Linked DNA regions of Homo sapiens: region 1 is linked to region 2. The links come from fine-mapping of genetic effects on gene expression. A gene starts in region 2. The other region holds a variant in brackets. All regions are shown on one strand. Distances are between the middles of the regions.

What was found. PIP is the estimated chance that this variant, and not a neighbour inherited with it, causes the effect.
Region 1: its variant is fine-mapped to the expression of MIS12 in sigmoid colon (GTEx, PIP above 0.99).

The regions. Positions count from the first base shown.
Region 1 is chr17:5,452,690-5,468,546 of GRCh38, reverse strand. It overlaps DHX33 (DEAH-box helicase 33), which reads left to right. Exons shown (of 12, transcript NM_020162.4): 2 at 4,858-5,018; 3 at 6,001-6,228; 4 at 7,438-7,608; 5 at 12,365-12,550; 6 at 13,276-13,387; 7 at 14,567-14,726; 8 at 14,879-14,967. Among named protein-coding and RNA genes, the nearest start is that of DHX33, 8.4 kb to the left of the region's middle. RefSeq lists enhancers at 1-141, 1-513. The variant G/C (reference allele first, on the strand shown) is at 8,611.
Region 2 is chr17:5,480,173-5,494,320 of GRCh38, reverse strand. It overlaps MIS12 (MIS12 kinetochore complex component), which reads right to left and starts at 7,755. Exons shown (of 3, transcript NM_001258217.2): 1 at 7,637-7,755; 2 at 5,732-6,125; 3 at 3,510-5,498. The coding sequence starts at 5,458. The coding sequence ends at 4,841. It overlaps DERL2 (derlin 2), which reads left to right and starts at 8,143. Exons shown (of 7, transcript NM_016041.5): 1 at 8,143-8,252; 2 at 9,105-9,170; 3 at 11,439-11,512; 4 at 12,932-13,025; 5 at 13,739-13,934. The coding sequence starts at 8,160. RefSeq lists enhancers at 7,136-7,245, 7,486-7,585, 8,206-8,265, 8,306-8,485 and silencers at 7,759-7,926, 7,876-8,035.

The DNA.
Region 1 (15,857 bases), 27 kb after region 2:
TTCCTTGCACTTCGTCCGTGGCTTAGCTAGAGCAGTTTTTCTTACATGCCTCTCAATCCCTTTCGTTCGTGGCTTCAACAAACCTGAATACCTTTTCTGGGCCAGACCTGGAGAGGGGCCTCGAAGAAGAGTCCGGCAGCCCTGCCCTGGAGGCGCTGGACAGCCCGGTGAGAGTGACCAACGTGTGTAGGCAAAGACTCACCTTCCGCGTAAAAGGGTAGAGAAACGTACCGGGGGCTTGCGGATCTTAGAAGAGTGGATCTGACCCGGTTTGTGAGGAGGCGGCTGGGGAGGTCGTGTGGGAGGGAGGGCATTCTAGGCAGGGGGGAAAGCCCGTTTGAGAGATGGGAACCTGAACACATTCCGGTCGAAAGGGAAGGTGTAGTTTCTGGTGCATGAAAAGAGGCAGAGTTGTGGGGCAGGGACTGATTTCATGGGGCTTATGATCCCCAACGTGTTAGAGGAGATACTGAAGGACGGAAAGGATGAGCAGCCAAAGAGAGGAAGGAGACCCATGAGTGCTGCTAGTCAAAGGAATAGAGAGTGAGCAGATGCAGCAGTCAAGTCCGGTTATACTGGACTTGGATGTGATGCCCACTGGATTTGGATGTGAGCTATTTGTAAGAGTTAAAGAAAAAGGAAAGAAACACGAAACGCGGCTGGCAGTTAAAGACAGCTTTTCTTTAGTTAAAACCTGAGAGGCGCTCCTGGCCGATTTCGGTCAGGAGCCCTTTCTCTTACAGACTAAGAGTATATATTGGTGTTAGGGTGAGGGGGCTTATCACAAGCTTGGAATGTTTATATGTGTGGAGAAGTTTTTGGCAGGGTTGGACTCTTTGGGAGCAGGGGATGTTATCTTGGGGCAGACATTTTTCCGGCCCGAGGGGGTTTATCTCCCGGCTGGCATATTCCCGGCTGGCATATTCCCGGCCAGAGTGGGGTTATCCCTTAACATGTCTCTGGTCGGGGAGGAGTTTGGAATGTTTCTGGCTGGAGATGTTATTTGTGGTTTATGGTCGTGCTGACCTTAGCCATTAGGCTGATACCTTTTGGATTTAGGCGGTTTTTTATTAAGGTGAACTTTTGAATGAGGGGCTTGTCCAAGATGGTGATGTTCCTGCTTTGTCAATCCAGACCCTATAGTTATAAAAAGGAGGAGGGACGGCATGTTCTTTCTGGCTACTTCCTGCAACGAGGGGATGGAGAGTTTCCTGGTCTCGGGTTGACTAGGAGCAATGCCGTCTGTAGATGTTTTTGGGTAGTTGTTTGTGAAATTGCCATGATCCTGTCAGTTAAAAATCTTTGAAAAAGATTAATTAGGCAGGGTAAGAACATTAGTTCCAGGCATATTATTAGGAGAGGGCCCAGGAATGGGATGACCCATGCTATGATTTTGTTTTCAAACCAAGAGTCCATTTGGTGGTTTTGGTACTCCCTTAGCTTTTTAGCCTTTTCTTTACGTTTTTTAGCAGCGCTTTTTACTAGGCCCGATTGGTTGATATAGAAAGAGGCGTGAGCCACCGCACCTGGCCCCCTCAAAACAATTATTTAACCTTTTAACGTAGGTAAAAATGTGCATTCTTATCCCTCCTGATAATCTTTTTACCGAAAGTGTACTTTACTTTCCTTACACACCTTGCACATAAAGTGTCTCTTCAATAGTTTTAAATACATGTTACACTGTTAACTTTTAGCAACCTTTACCTTTGTTGAAAACCTTGGTAAGTTCGGGATTTTAATTATGTGCTAGGTGTACAGCCTAGGACTTAGACAGAAGTGCAGTTAAGGTCTGGCTTATTTCAGCATTTAGCTCCATGTGTCCTAGGTTTTACCTAGCTGCAAAGCAGGCAAGTTCTACAGCTAAGAGTTATGGTGACATTTTATAAAGCATTCAGGAGGCCTAATCACTTTTAAATTGTAAAACATTTCTTGCATACATTTCCTCTCATAAAATTTTTCATGACTTTCACAGACTATCTCTGACACTATTGATCGTGGATCCATCCCATCGAGAGCTATTTCAACAAAGCTGTGTGGGTAACAGCTGATTTGTCATTGAGCTGAGGGCTGAAAGCAGGGGGAAGAGGCTTCTGTTTTGAGGAAAAAGGAGGGAAGCTGAGAGAAACTTTATGGATGCTGCTCGATTTAGGATGGGGTTATGTGTGGATGAATCCACCCATCCTCATAAGTTGAAAATATCCTAAGTTGGAAATGCATTTAATATGCCCAGCCTACTTTCAGTGTGCTCGGAACATGTACATTAGCCTATGGTTGGGTGATATTATCTAACATGAAACCTATTTTATAATAAAGTCTTGAATATTTCATGCAATTTATTGAATACCATACTGAAAGTGACAGTTGTGTGGGTACTCAAAAGTACAGTTTCTACTGTACGATTTTGACTTTTGCTCCATCCTGAAGTCAAACAGTTCTAAGACAGGGACCATCTGTATTCAGAGGTTGAGGGGAAGAACTCAGTAGGGAGGGAGGCAGAAGATAGAATCGAGCTAACAGAGCAAAGATCAGGAGGCATGGGGGACGGGGGAACTTGGCCACAAGGGCTAGATGCAGGGCTGGTCTGGAAGAGGAGGAAGGCTAAGAGGCTGCAGGGCTAGAGAACGGATGTAAGGATGGTGCACTGCAGAAGGGCTTCTAGGGGCAGTTAGGGAGAGACCACATTTTAGAACCCCACTTCTGTGAGACAGGTTCAGGAGCCCTGCTCAGAATGGGAGTCACTGGGCTTCAAGTGGGCCCTTGGGGAGGATGGAGACGAGACAGGCTGCAAAAACAAGAAAAAAGATCGATGGCAGTAGTGGTGCCTAGGTGCATTTCGGCTACACTATAAACTCAGGTTTGCTTCTGCACAGCCAGATTATAGGTGGAACATCCCAAATTTGAAAATCCGAAGTCAAGAATGGGCTCCAAGGAGCATTTCCTTTGAGTGTCATATCAGATGCTCAAAAAGTTTTGGATTTGGGAGCATTTAGGACTTCAGATTTTCACATTTAAAATGCTCAGCCAGTAAGTATAATGCAAATATTACAAAACTTGAAAGAATCCAAAGTTCAAAACACTTCTGGTTCCAAGCATTTTGTATTTTACTTTAGCAACGCTCTGTTGCCCTGGTATAGGAGCATGAAAGATAGAGACATGGATCAAAGTTTGGGGTTTTGCCTAGTGGATTCAGCAGGAAGATTGCAGAATAATCAAATCCTTTGTCTGATTCTTATCTGGGTCAGGAAGGATGAGCAGTCAGAGGGGGCTGACAGACTGACAGGGAAAAAAACCCACAAATCATGGGACTGGAGGACTTTTTGAAGTCAGAGAGGCCTGGTGGTAGCTAGAGGGAGGGGAAGGAAGCGCAGGTTTACTGAGTTCTTTGCTCTAATCAGGCACTGTTAAAGGAATTCACACAGGGTAGGAAGTAACATTTACTGCGTGCTTATTGTATGCAAAATACTCAAGTACACGAGAGGGACATTCAGAGCACTGCCCTCTGGGAGCTTCCCTTCTGGTGTTGGAGGAGGACGGACACATTTAAACGCTTCTGTACAACACAGGATGGTCAGTGCTGGAAGAGAGATGAACAAGGCACTACGGAGCCCAGAGGAGGGCCACTGTGCAGCCAGGGGAGCGTGTTTGAGGCCTAACTCATCTTAGAGTTTGCGAGGCAGGCAGTGTGAGGGCAGGTGTTCTGCCCATAGTGTGGGCAGAGGCAGAGGGTTTGAAGGGAGGCAGCAGGCTGGGGAGTGGCCAGGAGTTGAAGGCAGCAGTGCATGAATGGATGTCTCTTCATGTCAGTCAGTATGCAGAAATCTATGTAACGGTTGTATTTTATTTTATATTTTAACTATGTAAATTACCTTTTGAACATTTATATTGTTTCCAATTTTTTTCTGTCAGGAGCAAAATTGAATAAAATCTCTTTGAAGCTGTATCTTTATACACATGTTTACTTATTTTGTTAGAATCAATTTCTGCAAGTAGAATTGTGGGTCAAGGGATATAAACATTTTAAAGATTTAAAAAACATAATTTGACCACCTGAGAAACAATACCAATTAACCAGCTAATTTCACCAGCAGTATACATACCTGAATGCCCATTCTCCTGAGGCTTTACCAACACAGGGTATTTTATCTTTTACTTCTGACTTTGAGCTGTTTGTTTGGTGAAATTTATGTCAATTTGCTTTTTGTTGTTGTTGTTTTTCTAAGACAGGGTGTCATTCCGTTGCCCATGCTGGAGTGTAGTGGTGTGATCATGGCTCACTGCAGCCTCAACCTCTCAGGCTCAAGCAATATGCCCACCTCAGCCTTCAGAGTAGCTGGGACCACAGGCGTGCACCACCACGTCCAACTAATGTTTGTATTTTTTGTAGAGACGGCATCTCCCTATGTTGCCCAGGAGCAACTCCTGGGCTCAAGTGATCCTCCTCCCTTGGCCTCCCCACGTGCTAGGATTACAGGCATGAGCCACTGTGCCCAGCCGATTTGCATTTCTTTTTTTATTTTTATTATTTTTTTTGAGACAGTGTCTCACACTATCTCCCAGGCTGGCATGCAGTGGCACAATCATGGCTTACTGTAACCTTGAACTCCTGGGCCTCATGATCCTTCTGTCTCAGCCTCCCTAGTAGCTGGGACTACAGGCACATGCAACCACACCAGGCTAATTGTTGTTGTTGTTGAGACGGGGTCTTGCTATGTTGCCCAGGCTGATTTTGAACTCCTGGGCTCAAGAGAGCCTCCTACCTCGGCCTCCCAAAGTGCTGAGATTATAGGTGCCAGCCCTGGTGCCGAGCCCCAGTTTGCATTTCAGTGAGCCTTTTTTTTTTTTCCCCCTCTCTCCTAGGGGAAACTGGCTCTGGGAAGACAACTCAGATCCCTCAGTACCTGTATGAAGGAGGGATCAGCCGCCAGGGCATCATTGCTGTGACCCAGCCTCGTCGAGTAGCTGCCATCTCTCTTGCTACTAGAGTCTCAGATGAGAAGAGAACTGAACTTGGGAAGCTGGTACCTGGTTCCTTCTTGACTATTAGTACTTCTTGACTCAACAGCTCTCTCCCCATGCCCACTGCCTTTTATTTTTCTAAACAAGACTCCTTTTACATAGTGAGCTGCTTTCTTGCCTATTCTTCCGAGAGTTCTTTACCAGCTCCTGAGAGATCAGGGGCTCTATTGGTCCCATGTGCTTTGCTTTCAAAATCTGTCGTCAGGTTGGATAAATTAGTTGCTTTCCTTGAACATCTTAAGCCTTCAGTAACCTCTCTTAACTCTCTTATCTATATATCATTCTAGAAAAATTGTAAGCATTATGCCAGTGTATATGTGAGTATTGAGAATGAGTCTCAGAACTGTATATAAGACAGATTTATTTGTGTGTGTGTGTACTCATTTCACTTAAAAATACCTTAGACGTCTTTTCATATCTGTACATAGCTTCACATGAAACTTTTTTTTTTTTGGAGATAGTCTCGCTCGGTCGCCCAGGCTGAGGTGCAGTGGCGCAATCTTGGCTCACTGCAACTTCCGCCTCCAACCAAGCAATTCTCCTGCCTCAGCCTCCCGAGTAGCTGGGATTACAGACACGTGCCACCACACCCAGTGGCTAATTTTTGTATTTTTTAGTAGAGACGGGATTTCAGCATGTTGGTCAGGCTGGTCTCAAACTCCTGACCTCGTGATCTGCCTGCCCCAACCTCCCAAAGTGCTGGGATTACAGGTGTGAGCCACCACACCCGGCCCACATGAAACTATTAAATAGCTTGAGGTAGAAGGTTAATTTTAAATATTCCTTGTAATAGTTACATTAATTGCGGTTAAAGTAAACTTGACCATTGTCTCTCTCAGCAGCTAGACTGCATGCTTCCCAAGGGAGTGGGAAGCGTTGGTGTTGGTCTTGTTCACTGTGGTAGTGCAAGTGCCCAACTTAGTGCCGGACACAGTGGGCGCTCAAGAAATGTTTGGTGACTGAATAAATTGTTTCCCTGCACAGGTTGGCTATACAGTGCGCTTTGATGATGTCACCTCAGAAGACACCAGGATCAAGTTTCTGACAGATGGCATGCTTCTGCGTGAAGCAATTTCAGACTCTTTGCTTCGGAAATACAGCTGTGTCATTTTGGATGAAGCTCACGAACGGACTATCCACACAGATGTGCTCTTTGGAGTGGTGAAAGCTGCACAGAAGAGGAGAAAGGAACTCGGGAAACTTCCTCTGAAAGTATGAGGGAAACTTCCCCTGAAAGTATGAGGGAAACTTCCCCTGAAAGTATGCGTAACACACAGAAGGAAACAGGCCTGGCTGGGCGCGGTGGCTCACGCCTGTAATCCCAGCACTTTGGGAGGCCAAGGCCGGTGGATCACCTGAGGTCAGGAGTTCGAGACCAGCCTGGCCAACGTGGTGAAACCCCGTCTCTACTAAAAATATAAAAATTAGCTGGGTGTGGTGGCACACATCTGTAATCCCAGCTACTTGGGTGGCTGAGGCATGAGAATCGCCTGAACCCAGGAGGCGGAGGTTGCGGTGAGCTGAGATCACACCACTGCACTCCAGCCTGGGTGACAGAGCGAGACTCTGTCTCAAAAAAAAAAAAAAAAAAAAAGTGAAAGTTCATTAAATAGCATAACTTTATAGACAACTTGTATTTCAGGGAGTTGGCAGAAATATGATCTGAAAGTATCCAGATAATTGGCCCGGCACGGTGGCTCACGCCTGTAATCCCAGCACTTTGGGAGGCCGAGGCCGGTGGATCACCTGAGGTCAGGAGATCGAGACCAGCCTGGCCAACGTGGTGAAACCCCGTCTCTACTAAAAATACAAAAAATGATCCAGGCATGGTGGCACATGCCTGTCGTTCCAGCTACTAGGGAGGCTGAGGCAGGAGAGTCACTTGAACAAGACTGAAATTCCGTCTTGATTTTTTTTTTTTTTTGCACTCTGTTACCCAGGCTGCAGCGTGGTGACGCGATCTCAGCTCACTGCAAGCTCCGCCTCCCAGGTTCACGCCATTGCTTACCTCAGCCTCCCAAGTAGCTGGGACTACAGGCGCCCACCACCGCACCTGGCTAATTTTTTGTATTTTTAGTAGAGACGGGGTTTCACCGTGTTAGCCAGGATGGCCTCGATCTCCTGACCTCGTGATCCGCCTGCCTCGGCCTCCCAAAGTGCTGGGGCTGGGATTACAGACGTGAGCCACCGTGCCCGGTGAAACTCCATCTCAAAAAAAAAAAAAGAAGGAAAGGAAAGGAAACAGACCTGTGTGCTCTAGCAGGGTGTTTTCCTCTGCCTGTTCTGCTCAGAGCCTTGGAAGAAAGTAAACTGTGATGGGGGTGGCACAGGCCTCAATCATCTGCTTTTGGGGCTCGAGAGGGACACGGAAAGGCCTTCCCACTATTTGTTTCTGGTCCTCCTCTTCGTTCTCTTATGCAGGTGATTGTGATGTCAGCTACGATGGATGTGGACCTGTTCTCTCAGTATTTCAATGGCGCCCCCGTCCTCTACCTAGAGGGTCGGCAGCATCCGATCCAGGTGTTTTACACCAAACAGCCTCAGAATGATTACCTGCACGCCGCGCTTGTCTCCGTCTTCCAGATCCACCAGGTATGGTGCTGGGGGCAAATTCCTGAAAAGTTCTCTTTTATCTTGCAGTTGGTAGTGAGAACATTGAGCCTTGAAAAGAAAAGCTACTGAATAAAACAACTTTGTGAGTTGTGTCATCAAGATGAATAAGGAGGCCAGGTGCGGTGGCTCACGCCTGTAATCCCTGCACTTTGGGAGGCCGAGGCAGGTGGATCACCTGAGGTCAGGAGTTCAAGACCAGCCTGGCCAACATGGTGAAACCCCATCTCTACTAAAAATACAAAAATTAGCCAGGCATGATGGCGGGTGCCTGTAATCCCAGCTACTCGGGATGCTGAGGTGGGAGAATCGCCTGAATCCGGGAGGTGGAAGTTGCAATGAGGCGAGATTGCACCACTGCACTCCAGCCTAGGTGACAGAGGGAGACTCCGTCTGAAAAAAAAAACAAAAAAAAAACAATGAATAAGGAGTTCATTTGCTGTGTCTGGATTTTTATCCTTTATTTATGATATCTCTAATTTTCATTGAAAAGAAAAATAATTCAGTTCTGACCAGCAGCTTTCTTACACTGAGCCAGAAAATTTTCATGTTAAAGCAGTAGCTTACCAACTTTCCTTGATTATAACCGCCATTAAGAAGTACTTTTGGCTGGGCACAGTGGCTCACGCCTGTAATCCCAGCACTTTGGGAGGCCGAGGCGGGTGGATCATGAAGTCAGGAGATCGAGACCCTCCTGACTAACATGGTGAAACCTCGTCTGTACTAAAAATACAAAAAATTAGCCGGGTGTGGTAGCGGGCGCCTGTAGTCCCAGCTACTCGGGAGACTGAGGCAAGAGAATGGCGCGAACCCAGGTGGCAGAGCTTGCAGTGAGCCGAGATCGCGCCACTGCACTCCAGCCTGGGTGACAGGGCGAGGGTCTGTCTCAAAAAAAAAAAAAAAAAGGTACTTTTTCTTTTGCAACCCCGTACGCTATACATATAACTGAAATAGGTCTATGAAACACTGCTTCTGGCCAGGCAT[G/C]GTGGCTCACACCTGTAATCCCAACGCTTTGGGAGGCTAAGGCAGGAGGATCACTTGAGTCCAGGAGTTCAAGACCAGTCTGACAACATAGCAAAACCCTGTCTCTATAAAAAAAATTATAAAAATTATTTTTTAAAGAAGAAGTACTGTGTCTTTTACTACATGTAGGGTACTCTGATATTTTGTGCCTCATTTAAAGAAAATGTTGGCTGGGCACAGTAGCTCACACCTGTAATCCTAGCACTTTGGGAAGCAGAGGTGGGTAGGATTGCTTGAGCTCAGGAGTTTGAGACCAGCCCGGGCAACATAGCAAGACTTGTCTCTACTAAAAATCAAACAATCAGCCAGGTGTGGTGGTGCATGCCTATAGTCCCAGCTACTTGGGATGCTGAGGTAGGAGGATCACTTAAGCCTGGAAGATTAAGGCTGCAGTGAACTATGATCACCGCACTCCAGCCCGGGAAACAGAGCAAGATCCTATCTCAAAAAAAGAAAAAGTTGACATTAGCCCAATAATGGGTTGCAACTTAGAGTTTCTTTTTTTTTTAAACTATATTAGGAGAATATTTAAAAATATTTTCTCATTTTATTAAACATTTACTTCAAAAATTTGAATCATTAAGTCACTTTTGTTTAATTTGTATAAAATTTAATGTTTTTACCTTCCTATTAGCTTTCTGAGAAAATCCAGAGGCAAACTTTTAAAATAACTTTTTATTTAATTAATTTACTTATTTAGAGACGGGGTCTCATTCTGTCACCCAGGCTGGAGTGCAGTGGCATAATCACAGCTACTACAGCCTCGATCTCCTGGGCTCAAGCCGTCCTCCTACCTTTGCCTCCTGAGTAGCTGGAACTACAGGCACACACCAGTACACCTGGCTAATTTTTTTTTATGTTTTGTAGAGACAGGGTCTTGCTACGTTGCCCGGACTGGTCTCAAACTCCTGACCTCAAGTGATTTTCCCGACTCAGCCTCCCAAAGCACTGGGATTGCAGATGTGAGAAACCGTGCCCAGTCAATTTTTATTTTAAAATAAGTGATGCATATGGGATTTAAAGTTTTAAAAAGTCAAGTAGTTTATAGTAAAAGGTTTATAATAAAAGAATAGCAGTTGTTTTTACTTCAACATCCCAGATTTCTGCTGTTTAGGGCACCTACTTTCAATCTCTACATATTGCTTTCATGTTTCTAAACTACCTTGCTTTGACCACTATTTTTTGAGTTATGGGTATCAGGCATCATATGCTAATTTCTTACCATGGTGACAAAAGTTTAGAATGCCCCTCCCCAACCCCCTTTATCTCCAACCTCTTGACAGTTCTATCATGTTTTTGTTTAGGTTTTTGTTTTTGAGGCAGGATCTTGCTGTGTTGCCCAGGCTGGTCGTGAACTCCCGGGCTCAATCAGTCCTCCCACCTCAGCATTGGGAGTAGCTAGGACTACATGCTTGCACACCTGTGTCTGGCCTATTATGATGTTTTCTGAGTCCAGTATCAATACTAAGAATATTATGACCACACATTGCTAGTAGCACACCATCATCCCTGTACCTTGTTTCTTGAACAACACAGTTGTGCAAGCTTTCTGGGTAGCTCTGGCTCATTTTCTCCCAAATATTCCAACATCTCATATGCCAGTCGTGTATAGTTCTGTGTTCAAGCACAGTCTGTCTTTTCAGAGTCCTTTATGCTGCTGTTCCAGTTGGGGCAGGTGGCTCTCCTGGGCCTTTGTGCAGCTGTCATCTTGACTCTTCACTTTGTCACCATTTTCCCGTGGTGAGACCCATGGCTTCCCAGTCTCCTGGCCGTCCTGGGTAGGAGAGGGAACTGAAGGCTTTAACTACTCTATACTCAGACTTTGAACCAATCCCTGAGTTTTCACTCTCCCACAACATAATTTGTAGTTTCCTCCCTCTAGCCAAGTCATCCAGCCCCTTTCCCCTCTCTTCCAAAATGAGTTGAGACTCCTCATCTCTCATTGCCTTTTCTTTCTAAGACAGTGGCCTTTACTGTCGTTTTCATAGTGTTTGGGGAAGAAGTCTGCCTTGTTCAGCTGCAGAAAGCAAACGAGAATTTTTCATGAATGATGGCTGCTGGTGCATTAGGTTACCACTGGCTTTGATGAATTCTCCCACTCATGAGGTTTTGACTGTTTTAGATTTTATCCTGTCTGTGTATCCCTCTGCACATTTGTTCTGTTAATACTGGGCTGAAAAAAAATACATATTAAAAAATACGTATTTTTACATATATACATAAATATACATATAATTATTAAAATTTTTTTCTATTTATTTTGCCATTAGGCACTTTTTTTTTTTTTTTTTGAGATGGAGTCTCACTGTGTCGCCCAGGCTGGAGTGCAGTGACACGAGCTCGGCTCACTGCAACCTCTACCTCCCAGGTCCAAGTGATTCTTGTGCCTCAGCCTCCTGAGTATCTGGGATCACACCTAGCTAACTTTTGTATTTTTAATAGAGATGGGATTTCACTGTGTTGGACAGGCTGGTCTCAAACTGCTGACCTCAACCCATTTGCCTGCCTCAGCCTCCCAAAGTGCTGGGGTTACAGGCATGAGCCACTGCGCCCAGTCCATCAAGCACTTCATTTTATTTATTTATTTTTTGAGATGGAGTCTTGCTCTGTCGCCCAGGTTGGAGTGCAGTGATGCAATCTCGGCTCACTGCAACCTCCGCCTCCCATGTTCAAGTGATTCTCCTGCCTCAGCCTCCTGAGTAGCTGGGATTACAGGCGTGCGCCACCACGCCTGGCTAATTTTTTGTATTTTTAGTAGAGACAGGGTTTCACCATGTTGGTCAAGCTGGTCTCGAACTCCTGACCTCAGGTGATCTGGCCGCCTCGGCCTCCCAAAGTGTTAAGCACTTTACATCAAACAAATTAATGTATCTGATCAGAAATCAAAGAAAAATCAGGGCATTAGGTATGTCATTCACACTTGGGTGTTGTTCCATTTGAAAGTGAGGAACCCCATTAACCTCAGTATCTCAAGCAGTTGTCCGAGTATAGTGTGTGTTTTGGGGCGTGTGAAAGCGCTTTCGACGGCGTCATTCATTAAAGGCTCCTTCTCCAGCATGGCTGCGCCTGTTCATTTCCATAGATTAGGATTTCCCCAAGTTTCCTTCTGTTTTGTCAACTTCATTTTTCAAGATGCTTATAAAAGAAAGGAAGCTTCATGCAGATTTTATTTGCTTGCCTGATTATGCTTTTCATGGTATTGTTCTTGTTAGAAAAATCAATCTGATGATTTCCCTTCAAAATTTCATCACTTGGCCTATAAACATAGCTGGCTAACTCCTATATATTACAGTTTTGTTTTTTGTGTTTTTGAGTCAGGTTCTCGTTCTGTCGCCCAGGCTGGAGTGGAGTGGCAAGCAGCTGGAACTATAGGCATGTGTCACCACCCCTGACCAATTTAAAAAAAAGTGTTTTGTAGAGATGGGATCTTGCTGCGTTGCCCAGGCTGGTCACAAACTCCTGGCTGCAAACGATCCTCCCGCCTCAGCCTCCCAAAGTGCTGGGTTTACAGGCGTGAGCCATCACACCCAGCCTGTTACCATTTACACACTGCTGGTAAGGGTTCTCTCCAAGCTAGACATCAACTTTTAGGCTCATTTACATTTCTATAGTTAAGAGAAATAACTCTGGGAAACATCATCAATCACCATTGTCTTTTTCTGTGCAAGCTGCAATTCTATCAATGCCTAGTAAACCCACTCTACTTTTTTTACAGGAAGCCCCTTCTTCACAGGACATCCTGGTGTTCCTCACTGGGCAGGAGGAGATCGAAGCCATGAGCAAGACGTGCCGAGACATTGCAAAGCACCTCCCAGACGGCTGCCCTGCGATGCTGGTCCTTCCTCTGTACGCCTCCCTGCCCTATGCACAGCAGCTCCGAGTCTTCCAAGGGGCCCCAAAGGTGAGTGCACCACCTCTTCTGTCCAGCCCTATTCTGGGCACCCAGACGGATCCACCAGCGAGGTCTGTACCTGTTACCAGGCTCCAGATAAGGTGTATGGGATGGGATACCCAGGTGCCAGATCAGCGCACTGAGGAGGTGCAGGAATAAAATGCGCGGTGACACACGCAGCGCTCCTGTGACAGGAGCAGGGAGACAGTTGTTGGGATGAGGGAGAGTATAAACCAAAGCTGCAAGGTAAACGAGTGACTTCTAAGGACCAGCATAAATTGCATTTGTCCATAGTGCCATTTCTTGTGTGCCTTTGCCGTGCCAGGCACTGTGCTAGCATTTATATCCACTGTCTGTCATCCTCGTGGGAACCGGCAAGGCAGGTTATGATCCCATGGGGATCCTGAGGCCCCAAGAAGGGAAGTAACAATTGCTCAAGGGGGCGCATAGTAAGTCACTGGCAGGGCCACGATTCCAACCCACATCTACTTGCTTCTGATTCCTGTGCTTGTTCCACTGCATCTCATTGCCTCAAATTGACCTTTAAGACTGCAGCGTCCCCTTCCCCTGCCCGGTTTAATGACCAACCATTAATATTAATGACTGCCATTAATAATGGAGTCATCTTCTGTTGGTCAAGAGTGAATTGTGGAAGTTAATGGTGAGAATATGTTTGAAGACTTCTGAATCATCCGTGTGTCAATGCGGCTTTTTGGTTTTCTTCCTCCTTTTAGGGCTATCGCAAAGTGATCATTTCAACCAACATCGCTGAAACCTCCATAACCATTACAGGAATAAAATATGTAGTTGACACGGGCATGGTTAAAGCAAAGAAGTATAACCCTGGTGAGAATTTGTAGTTCATGAATGTCTCTCCTGTGTCTAGTGAGCAGCCACTGAAACTGTAGTCCCACAGTTTTCCCCTGAGTGTTTCATGTTTGTAACTAACAAATTCAGGTGGCAGGCGCCATGAGTGAGATCACCTACACTCCAGGTCCGCGAAGGAGTCCTGAGGCGGGTATGTGAGACAGGAAGTAGAGGCAGGAAAGAAGAGCCCAGGTTGAGCAAACTTGGGCACACAGGGTCAGGGACCTGGGCAGAGGGTCTGGTACCCCATCAGAAGTCGGCTCTAAGGCCAGGGACAGCTGGGTGTCAATCAAAGGGTGTCATCAGAAACTATATATATATGGCTGGTTTGAGCTCCCAGGTTTCTCAGGAAGGAACCAGATCTCCTGGCTGAGGTGAGGCATGGAAGGAGCACTGGCTTCTCCTAAGAAGGTGCAGTGAGAAGCTAACTTAAGGTCATCTTGACTCATGTCTGTTTTATACTTTGCTTTATTCCACAGAGGATTTGAGACCACTGAAATTATTGCTCCCAATTATTGAACTGAAATGCTCTAGTAAACATTTGAGGGTCCTGGCTTCCACAGGTGTATCTTTTTGTGATGACGTAGGTGAAAGAGCTTGGGTCTCCAGTGCCAGGCTAATGATACACCTTTATCAAGAAAATGAACCTCATTTACTGCTAGAAAACAGACATCACATTATTTCTGTCTTACAGCAGAACTGGGAGGGAGGATAAAGCACACAAGTGATTTGAGGCATTTAATTTCGTAGTCATTGATTGATAGTATGACCCCCATCCTAGTTTGCTGAAACTCCCAGTTTTAGCACCCAAAATCCGACATCCCAGGAAACCCTCTGTCCCAAGCAAACTGGAGGGGTTGGCCATCCTACCATCTAAGGCAAGACCTCGGAAACTACTCTTCTCGCCCCTTGCTGCATGCGTGAGGTTTTTCTGATGTTTTTGTAACAGATTTCACAGTGGGCTTATGGCAAAGCCTTGTTTCACTAGGGCCAAACCGCTGCGGAGCAGTCTGGTTTTGTGCTGTCCATTGTGCTAGCCTTGAGGCTTTCTGGACCCCCGTGTTGCTGAAAGAACCACTGGTGTGCTTCTTTTTATCGACACTGTAGAAAGAGTTTGTTCATGTGATGAAGCACTAATGGGGCTCACTCTCCATCCAGACAGTGGTCTTGAGGTGTTAGCAGTGCAGCGGGTATCGAAGACGCAGGCTTGGCAGCGCACAGGGAGGGCTGGCAGAGAGGACAGTGGCATCTGCTACCGGCTCTACACGGAGGACGAGTTTGAGAAGTTTGATAAGATGACCGTGCCAGAGATCCAGAGGTAGGCACCAGTTGCTCCTGCACTGCTGCTGTTTGTCACCATGTCTCTCCTGCTTGCCCAGAGCTGCAGTTTTTACTCACACTCCACCATGAGGGGTTCTGACTCAATGGCAGAGGGATCAGGTCATGACCCTGGTCTCATGCTCTTCACAGGTGTAACCTGGCCAGTGTGATGCTTCAGCTTCTAGCAATGAAAGTCCCAAATGTGCTCACCTTTGACTTCATGTCGAAGCCATCTCCAGGTAAGTGAAATCCACAGTTTTGCAGAAGGTGGGTGAGGAGACAAACAACAACAAATGGACACTTCCAAAAAAATAAAGTATATTGGTCATCTCCTTTTGTTTATTTAATTTTGTGGATGACAACATTAGTTATTAGAGAAGCATCTGAAAATCATGAAATGATAGATAGATACATTGATTGACTTTTAAAGAGACAGGGTCTCACTGTGTGGCCCAGGTGGAGGTGCAGTGACTATTCACAGGCTCCATCACAGCCTCCAACTCCTGGGCTCCAGCGATCCCCCCGCCTCAGCCTCCCAAGTAGCTGGGACCACAGGCATGCGCCAGTGTTCCTAGCTATGAAACGATAGATTCTGTACTATCAGCACCATCAATAAAGTTCCTTGACCTCTGGAACCAGTGAAGGTCATCATGCGAGTCCTTGGGATACTACAGAAATGTAATGAAATTGTACTTTTATCAGCACAGGGACTGCAAAGATCACATTTCTTTGCCTTTAACTGGAATTTGATCCATCTCTCCTGTTCATTAGTAATTTCTCTACAGAAGAAGAAAATAATTGGAAATATTTATGATATTGGCTTTGGCACCTGGCCTCTCATCAACGCACCATTTTCCTTTTCTTTTTATTGCCCCCCCTTTTCTTAAGAAATGCAATTGGTTTAAAAAAGAAGGAAAGAAAACACAAAGTCACCAGTTGATGGGTATACAAGGGTCCTGCCCTGATCCTCAGGTTCACAGTTTCCTTCCCCTAGAACAACCACTGGAACCATTTTCTAGTAGACTTCTAGAGCAAATGTATGCATATATGAGTATATGTAGTGTGTTTGATTTTATTTATGTATTTATTTATTTATTTTTGAGACAGGGTCTCACTCTGGTTGTCCAGG
Region 2 (14,148 bases):
CTATCTCGCCTGGCCTGGATTCTTACCTCTATTTATCTATATGTCTATCTTTATTCCATTAACACACAGTCCTGATAACTATAGCTTTGCAGTAAATTTTGAAATTGGAAAGTATGAGTTCTCCAACTTTGTTATTCTTTGTCGAAATTGCTTTTGCTAGTCTAGGTGTTTTGAATTTCTATATACATTTCAGGATCAGCTTGCCAATTTCTACAAAGAAGTCAATTAGAATTTTGATAAGGATTGTGTCTTTATTAGCATCATGAAAACAGACTAATACAATGAGTTTTCTACATTTTCTGTTAAATTTCTTCAAAGGATTTTATTTTTGGTGTCTTCAAAATGGAATTGATTTCTCAATTTGATTTCCTGTTTGCTCATTGCTAGTGCATAGAAAAATAATTGAGGCTTGGTACAGTGGCTCGTGCCTGTAATCCCAGCACTTTGGGAGACTGAGGCAGGAGGATCACTTGAGCCTGGGAGTTTGAGACCAGCCTGGGCAACATAGCAAGACCTCATCTCTACTAATAATTTAAAAAATTAGTCGGGCATGGTGGCAAGCTCTTTGTGGTCTCAGCTACTCTGGAGGCTGAAGTGGGAGGATCACTTGAGCCCGGGTGGTTGAGGCTGCAGTGAGCTGAGATCTTGCCACTGAACTCCAGCCAGGGCAACAGGGCGGGACCTTATCTCAAAAAAAGAAAAATAATAGCTTTTCTTACATTGATATTATATTCTGAATCCTTGCTGAAACTCATTTATTTGTTCTAATAATCATAACTATTAGTTCTAATAGTTTAAGATGACAACAGAATGGTCTTCTACAAGATTATATCATCTGCAGATACGATCTGTCTTTCCAATCTGGATTCCTTTTATTTCTCTTTCTTGGGAAACTTTCCTGGGTAAGATCTTCAGCAAATGCTGAATAGGATGCTGAAAGTGGGCCTCCTTTGCTTTCTTTCCTGATATTCAGTATTTCACCATTAAGTGTGATGTTAGCTGTGAGTTTTTCATAGATGTCCTTTATCAGGTTGAGGAAATTCCCTTCTGTTCCTAGTTTGTTGAGTGTTTTTGGCATGGAGGGGTGTTGAATTTTGTCAAATGTTTTTATGTGTCCATTGAGGTGATCATAGGGTTTTTGTTCTTTATTCTATTGAGGTGGTGTATTTCATTAATTCATTTTCAGCAGTTAAACCAACCTTACATTCCTGGGATAAATCCCACTTGGTCATCGTGTATAATCCTTTTTATATACTACTGGATTTGATTTACTTATATTTTGTTGAGTATTTTTTTTTTTTTTTTTGAGACAGGGTCTCACTCCGTCACCCAGGCTGGAGTGCAGTGTTCATAACCATGGCTCACTGCAGCCTCAACTTCCCTGGCTTGAGCTAGCCTCCCACCTCAGCCTCCCAGGTCTCTGGGACTACAGGCATGCACCACCATGCCTGGCTGATTTTTTCTAGTGTTTGTAGAGATGGGGTCTCACTATGTTGCCTAGGCTGGTCTTGAACTCCTGTGCTCAAACAATCCTCCCACATCAAGTCTCCCAAAGTGCTGGGATTACAGGCGTGAGCCACCATGCCTGGCTTTGTTTGTTTGTTTGTTTGTTTGTTTTTACAGAGTCTCAGTCTGTTGTCCAGGTTAGAGTGCGGCAGCAGGACCTCGTCTCATATTGAAACCTCTGCCTCCCGGGTTCAAGTGATTCTCGTGCCTTAGCCTCCTGAGTAGCTGGGATTGCAGGTGCACGCCAGCACACCTGGCTAATTTTTGTTTGTTTTTTGCTTTTTGAGACAGTCTCACTCTTATCACCCACGATGGAGTGGAGTGGTGCAATCTCGGCTCACTGTAACCTCCACCTCCCGGGTTCAAGCAATTCTTGTTCCTCAGCCTCCCAAGTAGCTGGGATTACAGGAGCGTGCCACCACACCTGGTTAATGTTTGTATTTTAGTAGAGATAGGGTTTCATCATGTTGCCCAGGCTAGTCTTGAACCCCTGAGCTCAGGCGACCTGCCTGCCTCAGCCTCCCAAAGTGCTGGCATTACAGGCATGAGCCACTGCACCCAGCTATGTTAAGAATTTTTTTTTTTTTGCATTTACATCCATTATGTAATGGTGAATAGGCATGACAGTAGAGAATAAATAAAACCAGGGAAGGTTTGGTATTACAGAACAATGGGATCTCATATTGGGGTGGGGGGGAAAGTGAGAAATTGGGTGAGATTGATGCTGGATGGGAGATGGGACAATTTTATCCTTTATTCTATAGTGGTTCTATTTATTCTGTTCTATTGATGCATTTTCACACGTTAAAACAACCTTGCATTCCAGGGAAGCAGAGAATGGGTAAACAACTGTATATAATTCTGATTTAGTCATAAATTTCTGAAGGGAGAATTTACTTTTTAGAGGATGATAGGGTCAACTATATTATTTCTGCAGAGACACCACCATAACAAACAGCAACAGTAATGTCCAGCAATTATTAAGCATGTACTCAACACAAAATGGACCCGAGTTCAAACACTGGATTTCACCCTTCTATCCAGGTCATGACCATACTTAACTGTATTAAGATGAACCATATTACTGCATATAATAATGTCAAGGCCTCAGCAGTAGTTTCCTTAATAGATAGCTTATATCCTCATGAACATCTCAATATTCTGATTTCACTAACATGCCTACTAATAGGTATATTGTTTCCTGTGACTGCTGTAACAAACTGATGACTTAAAACATATTCTCTCACAGTTCTGGAAGCCAGAAATGCAATCCACCTGTTGGCTCTAAGGCAGAATCTCTTCTTTGCCTCTTCCAGCTTGTGGGGGCTGCATTACTCCAAACTTTTTTTTTTTTTTTTTTTTTCTGAGATGGAGTCTTGCTCTGTCACCGGGCTGGAGTGCAGTAGCACGATCTCTGCTCACTGCAACCTCCGCCTCCCGGGTTCAAGCGATTCTCCTGCCTCAGCCTCCCGAGTAGCTAGGATTACAGGCATGTGCCACCACACCTGGCTAATTTTTTATATTTTTAGTAGAGACAGGTTTTCACCATGCTGGCTAGGCTGGTCTTGAACACCTGACCTCAAGTGATCTGCCCACCTAGGCCTCCCAAAGTGCTGGGATTACAGGTGTGAGCCACCATGCCCGGCCCCAACCTGCTTTTAGGTCCTAATACCTCCTCCTTTTCTGTCTGAAATCTCCCTCTGCCTTTCTAAGGAGACTTTTCACTGGATTTAGGGTCCATCCAAATAATGCAGGATGATCTCCTTATCTCCATATCCTTAATTATACCTGTAAAGACCCCTTTGCTGAATAAGGCAACATTCACAGGTTCCAGGAATTAGGACATGGACCTATCTTCGGAGGGATCACTGTTCGACCCACTACAGCAGATTCTGAATAAGCTATAAATGTGAAAAAGATAGTGTTTTCAATTGAGTAAAAAGTCATACTGGAAAGAAATATACCATGGCATTATAGACAGCAGAAAATAAAAAACCAAACCCTTTAAAACACATATATTTAATGTACAGAATTGGAAAAAGGACTTCTTGATAATAAACATATTTCATGTAAACACAAGCTTTCAATATCTATGAATATTTCATTGCAAATACACCCTAAGTTACTTCTTCTCTACATAAAGGAGAAACTCCAAGTTCTGCTCTTTAGGAAGACATGGAGGGCAAGCAATACCTTAGGAACAACCATTGCTATTTCTCCCCTTTCCTTGGGTGACCTAACATTTTACAGGGACTAACGACATAAAGAAATATTAGATTCCATTGAGTTTAAACACAAATTTCCCACTGAGGGCATTAAATATTTGATGCTTATGAGTGTGAATAAATAAATATTAGGTATAAGGCAGATTCCAAAACCAACTGAAGTATGAAAACAAATTGGCATAGATACCTAACAGTCAGTAAAATTAAATTTCACTACTGAGTATATGCTACATGCTTCCTTTTCTACTCCAGTGGGTTCTGCTTTTTTTGTCTAAGGTCTTCTGCTGGACTCTAAGACAGTCAATTGCTTAACATCACCAGGTTTTTTGTCAGGGGATTTATTTTGGAAATAAACCAACTTCTTTTTTATTAAAGATCAAGGTTGTCTTTTTTGCTACATGCTTCTTTCCACTACATATTGACTCCCTCATGAAAGAAAATTCACAGGACGAGAGCAAGTACTCTATGTTGGCTGTTCCGCAGTGTAATGACTGGTTAATAAAAGAGCCACTCAGCCTGGACAATATAGTGAGGCCTCGTTTCTGCAAAAAAATTAGCCAAGCATGGTGACACGCACCTGTGGTCCTAGCTACTTGGGAGGCTGAGGCAGGAGGATCACTTGAGCCCAGGACACAGAGGTTGCAGTGAGCCAAGATTGTGCCACTGAAATCTACTCTAACCTGGGTGACAGAAAGGGACCTTGTCTCAAAAACAATAATAATAATATTAAAGGAGCCACCCGTTTAATCCTTTTCTTGTCTGGTCTCATCCAAAGAGTAAGCCAAAATAATCAAGGTCACAAAGGACTTATGACCAAGGTGTAACTCTGCAAATATCTTTAACTGGTCATGGCTTCTTTGTTGGATCCCTTCCCACTTATTAGAAGACTCAGATGCTTCAGCCTAGTTCAAAGTAGTACACTTCATACCTCAGCAAAGTGGACCAAAAAAGAGGAAAACACAGAATACAAGAAAGAGTTGACAAAGCAAATCTAATAAAAAGTATGGTTGGTTTGAACAGTCACTGGTATGATTTGAACAGTCCTTATGGTTTGAACAGTCCTTATGATTCTACTTTTTGACAGGCTCCTCCTTTTGACTACTGAGCAATTAAGATATTTTCAGTCGTTTCGATTCCTTTTCCACATTGTCTCTAATGTTCTGTAGTTTTCTGGAGTTCTGAACCAGGGATACTAAACTCTCCCTAAAATCACTAGTCCCATGATCTCTGCCAACATTATGAAGCTCATCAAAGAAAGTCAACGTCTGTTTGAGTTTGGCCTGAACAATTTTTTGCTCTTCTAATTCTGCAAGAAGGGCCTGCTTAGTACATAATTCAGTCTTGTACTTCTCCTGTAACTGTTCAATTTCTTTCTGGAGATGCTGAAAATCTTCCTCACTATAAGGTGTCTCCTTACATTTATCTTCAGGAAGCAAGATGTTTGAGGGAATACGTAAAATCAGCTGCAAAAACAGTTGCTCCATTTTGCTAAAAAGGTTATCAAAATGTCCTTTCATGAAGCAAAGAAACTTCTCTGTGCATTTGCGAATCTGCACTGGGCTAATGTCACAGTCTGGGATGCCATCCAGCTTCTTCAGAATAACCTGTTCAACGGCCTGCATCACTTCAAATAGGTAGTCTTGAAATGCAATGTAGATCCGAAGCATGCACGTTTGTGGCGTGAAGCCAAAGAACTGGGCCTCGTAGGTCATTGGATCCACAGACATCTTGGCTTATTTTGCTATGTTGTTTTCAGTCGTGAAAAACCTGCAAATGTAAAAAGGAAATAATTCATTTGGAAAAAAAAAATCTTCTGCAGGAAGTAACCAATCACATTACAGATAGCAAACAAAGAAGCAAATCAATAAAAAATAAGGAGTTTGTGTTCCTTTATACCTGATGCCACTCCCACAACAGGATATAAACTCTTTGCCTCTCTGAGGCTCCTTCCATCAGCCTATACCCTCCCTTTTCCCCTCCTCGTTGTTCACTTCCCTTACCTGTGACTTTGGCACAGATCAGTCTTCTGAATTATCATCCTAGACAACTTTGAAGTCTAGACAGATGACTTAACCAATGCCCTAGAGACTCAGTTTCTTGAGCTTCAATGACCTATAGCTCCACCTTTTAGCCACCTGGCTCTTGATATTTGTAACTACTCTTCCAAACTGCTTCTACTTTTTGACTACTGCCTCCTACACAATTCTTCCAATTCTTACCCATATACTCATATTATACCCTAATCTTCAAGATTTACAGCCCCTCCACCCTCTCTTTCTGTTCTCAGCCTCTGCCACTTCTCTTCTTTCCTTATTCATTTTAGGCCTCATGATCTATCATTTTGATCACTCCGTTGCCAATGTCCTCAATTTGCTTGTCCTCCAGCCAAGCCATCTGAAAAAAACCCAATTAGAAGATGAGTAAGTCCCTTGTCAGCTTTATAACCCTGACATGTTTTTTCAAGGGTCTGCGAGTAATTCCTCTCAAATATAAACATCTAGGAAAATAAAACCCCTATCTCCTTGTCATTGTGGGAATTCAACCTAGGCATCTTTTTCTGAGATGAAATGATATTGCTTGTCATAGAAATAAGAGAAATTTTATTATTCCTTCAGATAAAGGCAATTAGCTAAAACAAACTGCTACTTCAATTATCAGGTGAATTTAGGACGCACTTTATGAAATAATTTGCAATAAGCAGTACAGTCAAATCTTATGGGAAGATAAGATGCAGCCAATCTTAAGAATTTATGTTTGTAGGCTGAGCACGATAGCTCATGCCTGTAATCTCAGCACTTTAGGAGGCCGGATGGACGAATCACCTGAGGTCAGGAGTTCGAGACCAGCCTGGCCAACATGGCGAAACCCTATCTCTCCTAGAAATACAAAAATTACCCAGGCGTGATGGTGGATACTTGCAATCCCAGCTACTCGGGAGGCTGAGGCAGGAGAATCACTGGAACCCGAGAGGCGAAGGTTGCGGTGAGCCGAGATTGTGCCACTGCACCCCAGCCTGGGCAACAGAGCGAGACTCTGTCTCAAAAAATAAAATAAAATAAAAATTTACGTTTGTAATGGTTAAATATGGAGTGGTTATAACTGTTTGGCTGTATATGTAAGGTAGGATTTCTTTCTGTTTTTCTTTTTTTCTTTTGAGACATGTTGTCGCTCTGTCGCCCAGGCTGGAATGCAGTGGCACGATCACAGATCACTGCAGCCTCAACCTCCCGCGCCCAAGCAATCCTCCCACCTCAGTCTCCCAAGTAGCCGGGACAACAGGTGCAGGCCACCATGCCTGGCTAATTTTCTTGTTGTTGTTGTTGTTTGAGACAAAGTGTCACTCTTTCGCCCAGGCTGGAGTACAGTGGTATGATCTCGGCTCGCTACAACCTCTGCCTCCTAAGTTCAAGTGATCCTCTTAGCTCAGCCTCCCAAGTAGCTGGGATTACAGGTGGGCGCCATCTCAAACAACAACAAAAAAATACACTTCCTTGATTAACTCCTTTCTTCGAATTCCCATTAGGACCTCTCTTCGGGCACTGACTGATGAACTTCTACCGCCTCATCTTCTCTGCTAGACTTAGAGTTCCTGAGAGCAGAATAAATGCGGCTTGATCAGTATTTGCCGATTCAACGCAGAGGTGCCCAGGTCATCTCGGCGAGTTGAGCTGTCTAAGACCCCGCGATCGCGCAGGACAGGACCCAGAAGCCAGAGCGCAGGAACTGCTTCCGGCCGGCTCCCGGCTTCCGTCGGGCCCCGCGCCCGCGCTGCATGCTGGGATCTTCAGGTCGGAGGCCGGGGTGAGGCCGACCCACAGGCCGCCTTGCTCCCTCGCGAAGACGCTTATGCCAGTCTCGCCCGTCCCCGCTCCTCCTCAGAGAAAATGCTGCCCCGCAGCACTTACCGGAGCGACCATGAGGGTGACGATTTGAAGCACACACAGGCTTCCCGCCACCTCCTTTAAACCGCCGCTGGCTTGCCAGGGACAGACGGCGCGGTTGGCTCCCCAAAATTCCGACTGATACGCGCCTCGGCGAGCGAAAGCAAACGCGGGATACTCTCGCGTTCCTGATTGGCTGGTTGTGGACACCTCAATTATGACAGAAAGGGGCCGGGCGGGAAAGTTAGCTGTGGCCGGCGGGGATTGGCAGAAGGAACCTGTACTTACTCGTTTTTCCCGGACGTTGGCTGGTGGAGAAGAGAGGGTGGGGAGATGGGGCGCTGGGGGGGGGCGGTGGCGACGCAACTCGTGATTGGCGGATGTGCGTTCCTTAGGTCTCTACGGATTGCGGTTGCTTGGCGTTGATTGGGCAGTCGCGGGAAAACTAAAGTGGGCGGGGGGCCTTTGGGCCCGCCCCGCCGCCGGGGCCTGCTGGCGGAAGGGGAAATGGGGTGGGTGGGGGGTGGGGCAGGCGACGGTGGGGAAGATGGCGTACCAGAGCTTGCGGCTGGAGTACCTGCAGATCCCACCGGTCAGCCGCGCCTACACCACTGCCTGCGTCCTCACCACCGCCGCCGTGGTGAGCAGCTGCAGTGCCACCTTCTCATTATCTGGGCTGGATATGACTGGGTCTTCAGGAAACTGGGGTTTGGGCCTCGGGGAGGCCCAGAGGGGCTGGTCCCGGGGATGGGTGGAGGCGTACAGGGATTACTCTGGGGTTCGAGTTGGCGCCAAGAATGCTTATCCAGTGACGCGAGAAGGGAGTGCTGCTTCATGGGGGGTCAGGTCAGTTTCTAAGAGATGAGCGCCGGACCTATAGCGGGTTAGGGTTGCGGGAGCCTCCCACCCAAGAAATGTGTCCGAGAGCTCTGCCAATGGCCAGGTGGTACCATGGTGACTAGTGAGAGGAAGGTCCGTTTAGTGAAGAAACAGGAATGGGGAAAGCAAGCTGGAAACTGTCGAGAGGGGAATGGCTTATAATAAAAAGGGTCTCTGGATCTAAATAAGGGGCTAGCTGGAGGTACCCAGCCCTAACGGTGGCAGGGTCTCCAGTCTCCGTTATTTCAAGTGAGTTTTGTTGTTTCATACAGCTGTTTCAGGTGGTGCCCATGTGGTGGGTAGATTCATAGCAGCTGTTTTTATTTGTCCTGTGTCTAAAATATCACCACCTGTCTGCCTCATTTCTTCATGTCAGCCTCAACTATTGCAACATAAAACAGACTTTTTTGTGTTAGGTATTGAGGATACAAAGAATTCTACCAATCCTAGAGAATTCTTTACCAACCTCTTCCTCTGGCCTAAGAAGAAAGGCTTAAAGGAAATCACGTCTAAGTGACCGAGAGTTGGAAATTGCTAGACCTACTAATTCTTTGTTGTAAATGATGAAATTTTGTTTCTTGATTTGCTTTAAGAAGCTCTTTTTCTATTTCAGCAGTTGGAATTGATCACACCTTTTCAGTTGTACTTCAATCCTGAATTAATCTTTAAACACTTTCAAGTAAGTGGTTCATCACAATAGTGATTAATGCTTCAGTTTCTTCTTTTTCTTACTGTTTAGTAGCAAATCCTGTTATACACTATCCTAAAAAAGAACCCAGTGGGGACCTTTGATTATAAGTTGCCTTGTCAGGATATAAAGCAGTGATTCTGCAGCCTGGTTGGACTTGAGAATCCCTTAGGGAACTTTGAAGAGATTCTCAAGCTCCTCAACAAGTACCAAATCAGAATTTGCAAGGGTAGGAATTAAAATCTGTGTTTTATTTTTAAAGTTCCCTGCATCGTTTTGATGTGTCCAGTTCCTGTATTTGGAAATCACTGGTTTAGACTTAACGTTGTCCTATGAGAGGAGGCTGACTAGCTAGCTGCTTAGGGGTTGTCTCACAGGGATGGCCTTATTTTGTCCATTCAGCACCTAGGCACACCCACCACCTTGGTGTTATCACCATGGTCCAGAAACTCAATTCTGTTAGTGCTTTTAAATTGTGATCTGTCTTCCAGGGATCAGATCATACTAACCAAATTCCAAACATCTAAAGCTATATGGTGGTTTATTAGATTACAATGGGAGATGGTCCTTTCCAGTGATTAAAATGCCAAAAGAGGCTGGGCACAGTGGCTCACGCCTGTAATCCCAGCACTTTGGGAGGCTGAGGCAGGCAGATCACCTGAGGTCAGGAGTTCAAGACCAGCCTGGCCAACATGGTAAAGCCCTGTCTCTTACTAAAAATACAAAAATTAGCCAGGCGTGATGGCACATGCCTGTAATCCTAGCTACTGGCGAGGCTGAGGCAGGAGAATCACTTGAACCCGGGAGGCGGAGGTTGCAGTGAGCCGAGATTGTGCCATTGCACTCCAGCCTGGGAGACAAGAGCGAAACCCTGTCTCAAAATAAAATGCTAAAAGAGAGATGGATTTTTCTGTTCCAGGATGATCTTACCATAGTTGGAGTAGGGGAGAGACCCAAAAGCCAATAACTGTGCCTCTACACATGCTGTTCTGTCTGTCTCAAATGTGTTTCATTCACTTTATATCCATTGAACTCTAGCTTGCCTTTCAAAACGCAGCTTTTGTGTAACCTTTATGTACTCATCCTCCTTTGTTTTAGAACATCTCTCACTTTTACTTTGCAGTTATGCGTATGCTTGTCTCCTCACTAGGATGAGGACTCTAAAATCTGGATAATTAATATGTAGAACTGAATTGTTTCAACTTTAATAGTTAACAATTCTCAAGAATTTAGTGGTCTGTAAAGCAGTCCTGTCATCTCTTGTCACTGTGTTCGCACAATACTCACATGGCGCTGTAGTTCCATCCAAGTAAGTCTTGCTTCCTACTTGGCTTTACTCTGCCTGGGGTTAAACTCTTGATGACACTGTGCATTTGGAGTTAGGAGTTCTAGATTTGCCATCAGAGTTTCCATCTACTCCTGCGGGTCCTTGGTCAGGACATTTAAAAGTTCAACTTTTAGCTGAATAACTAGTATTCAGCTAGTCAGTCAACTTTTAGTCTCCTATCTGTGAATTGGGGGTAGCTTGCTTGTCTGTGGATCACAAGAGATAGTAGACATTTTAAAACGTTAAGCACTCTACAATTGAGAGTGGTTACTGTGGGTGTGGAGATGTTGGGTAGGGAAGGGTCTATCAGGGTTTCCAACAAGAAAATAAGTGTTTGGCAGGGTGCAGTGGCTCACGCCTGTAATCCCAGCACTTTGGGAGGCTGAGGTGGATGATCCCCTGAGGCCAGGAGTTTGAGTCAGCCTGGACAACATAGTGAGAACCTATCTCTTTTTTTTTTTTTTTAAGTTTTAGTTTAAAAAAAAAGAATTTTCCTTTCTTTTAGATGTTTCTGACTGCCTAATGTAAACATTTCTCAGCAATTTATATTAGACCCTGAAGTTTTTCTCTGATATGTCAGTTCTATTTATTATATGATGATACTACATATGAAAGCACTGTTTTCTGTTCTGCCGATTAACCTAGTCTTTCCAGCAAACTTTCTCCATACGACGATCACAATTTAAAATTTTCTTTCCTATTATTATAAATGTCACAGTCCCAATGATGTCTTTCAGACTTTGAACTAAAAGCAGCAAAAAAAATCTAACATCAGATTATATGCCCCCGTTTTTGTTTCAGAACAGAGTATCACTCTGTCCAAGGCTTCTCAACCACCGCAGTCATAGGATGTTTCTTTTGTATTAATATGGAACTGTTTCCTGGTAATTTATTTTACTTAATACATCTTTCTCTTGATTTTTTTTTAACAGATATGGAGATTAATCACCAACTTCTTATTTTTTGGGCCAGTTGGATTCAATTTTTTATTTAACATGATTTTTCTGTATCCTTTATTAAATGGGGTCAGCATCAAAACTTTTTCTTAGGAAGTAAAAAATTAAGTTGAAACTTTTCATCCTGTTACTTGTTTTTGGTACCATCTTAGCTATGATTTCTGGGTCAGTGGTACATAAAGTAGTTGCTTAGGTAGTAATGTTTTGAAAATGTCTGTAGGTCACTTTGTTCAAATGGGAGGTTTTAACCATAAAAAGATAGCACTTCTGCTCTTTTGTTACTTACAAATCTGATCAAGGGAGGGGAGAATTGATTTAACTGAGGCATACCTCCACAGTAACCAACAGGTTCGAAGCCGTAAAACAACCTGAATGCAATGGTAATTCAGCAGAATTTGGGCATAAGTTTTGGAATGGGTTCATGAGGAGTGGGAACCTGAGATCTCCTTGGGTCCTGGTTGCTGGAACTACTGGCTGAAAGACAGTGGTTGTGTCTGCTGGGCTTGTCAAGTTCCGGTTTGTTGAAAGGAAAACCCCAGCTCTGATCCAATGGTAATTGGGGCCACAGAGCAGGGCATTCCTCTTCCACCCCTGCCCTCTGTATTAAGAGGGAGTTACAGTTCAACTCATCTGCAGCTGCATTCCTTCCTGAGGATGGCAGGAATCCATTTTATATCCTATGTAGGATATCATTCTGATAAGTTTCCATTAAAGTTTTTTCTCATCGTAATTCATCTTTATTGACTGAGGTGCTCAACCTGCCAGGCTGGAAAAGTAGTTGAGCACACAAGGCTTCTTGCTGCGGATTTCTTCCAAGTTAGGATGTGGGAAAGCAAAGATGGTGCATATTAAGGTGTGGCTGAGCACAGGAAAGACAATACAAATTTTTAAAGGTTTAATAGGGGACTGGAGGGCCGGGTGTGGTGGCTCACACCTGTAATCCCAGCACTTGGGGAGGCCAAGGCAGTGGATCACGAGGTCAGGAGTTTGAGACCAGCCTGGCCAACATGGTGAAACCTGCTCTCTACTAAAAATACAAAAAATAGCCTGGCATGGTGGCACACAACTGTAATCCCAGCTACTCAGGAGAATGAGGCAGGAGAATCGCTTGAATCTGAGAGGCGGAGCTTGCAGTGAGCCGATATGGCACCATTGCACTCCATCCTAGGTGACAGAGCGAGACTCTGTCTCAAAAGAAAAAAAAAAAAGAATAGGGGACTGAAAGCATGTCTGTGTGTCATCTGGATTAGTTCCCAGCCAGGGACAGTTTGTAAAAAATGATGCTGGTCTTGACCTTTTCTCAAATGCTTGGTAAAAAAGTAATCACATTACCACTCAAACATTCTTATACAAATGAAGACTTGACTAATTACAAATAATATGGAATCCAAGTGTACTTACAAGATAACATTAAATTTTTACTTTGTTCATATTCGTGTGCTTAATATTTTCTTAACTTGGAACTTAAGATATCGTTACTGTCGAATGCTAGAAGAAGGCTCTTTCCGAGGTCGGACAGCAGACTTTGTATTTATGTTCCTTTTTGGTGGATTCTTAATGACCGTATCCTTCAACAAACAACACGGGAAAATGTTGAAGAACACCCTGGCTCTTCCTAAAGCTTGTCATCTGTCTCCCACAGTTCTCTAGATCTTAGCTTCAGGGCACTATCATTTATTTTACAGCACATTTTCTGTGACAAGTTTCCAAACCTAGCAGTCGGACAGGATGAGCAAGTCAAAGGAACTTTTAACCCAGGTGGGTTACTGTTAAGCAACTCAGTTATATCATTACTGCTTGGCGTACTTCACTTTTAAACTAAGTTGGTAAGACATTTACTTGGTGGCTACCAAAACCAATAAATTATTTTTTCAGAAAAAGAATTTTCATCTATACAATAGACTTAGATATGGTACGGTCTGACAAGATGGTTTTGTTCCAGCTAGCTTTATTCATCTCTGTAAAGGTGCTAATCGTGAGCAAGCTTTAATATAATTATTGACTGAAGAATTAACACATTTTCCAAAGAGGCAAGAACTTCACGAAAGCAGAGTATTTGTTTGAAGTAGCTGTAAATCTCGATAATTTAGCCTAAGCAGATTTTTGCCTGATTGCTCTGGGTAATTATTTTCTGGGTGTTTCTCCTTCTATTCTAAAGATGTAACAACTTGACTTTTCCAATTCAAACTTCTGTTAGAACACAATCTTTAGTTCTCCTGCTCAGTCTTTCCTATTAAACTTTTAATGTTGATATTTTCCTTAATGCCATCTGCTAGCTTTTTGGTCTGTTTGTGAGCTTAGTTTTCTTGGGCCAGGCCTTTACAATAATGCTCGTCTATGTGTGGAGCCGAAGGAACCCCTATGTCCGCATGAACTTCTTCGGCCTTCTCAACTTCCAGGCCCCCTTTCTGCCCTGGGTGCTCATGGGATTTTCCTTGTTGTTGGGGAACTCAATCATTGTGGACCTTTTGGGTAAGGCTCTTCTCACTATTTTTTAAATTATTTTACCTGTAAAAGTATTTTGTTACTATTTTTCATGTTTATTCTGTTTGGCCTTCACGTATTACCTATTGTAAAATACCACAATATTAGTTCATTAATTTTTAATAATTATGTTGACATTCATCCTAAATATAGGCAATTTGTGTTGGTAGGTCTACCTGCAATCTAAATTTTAATTCTCTCC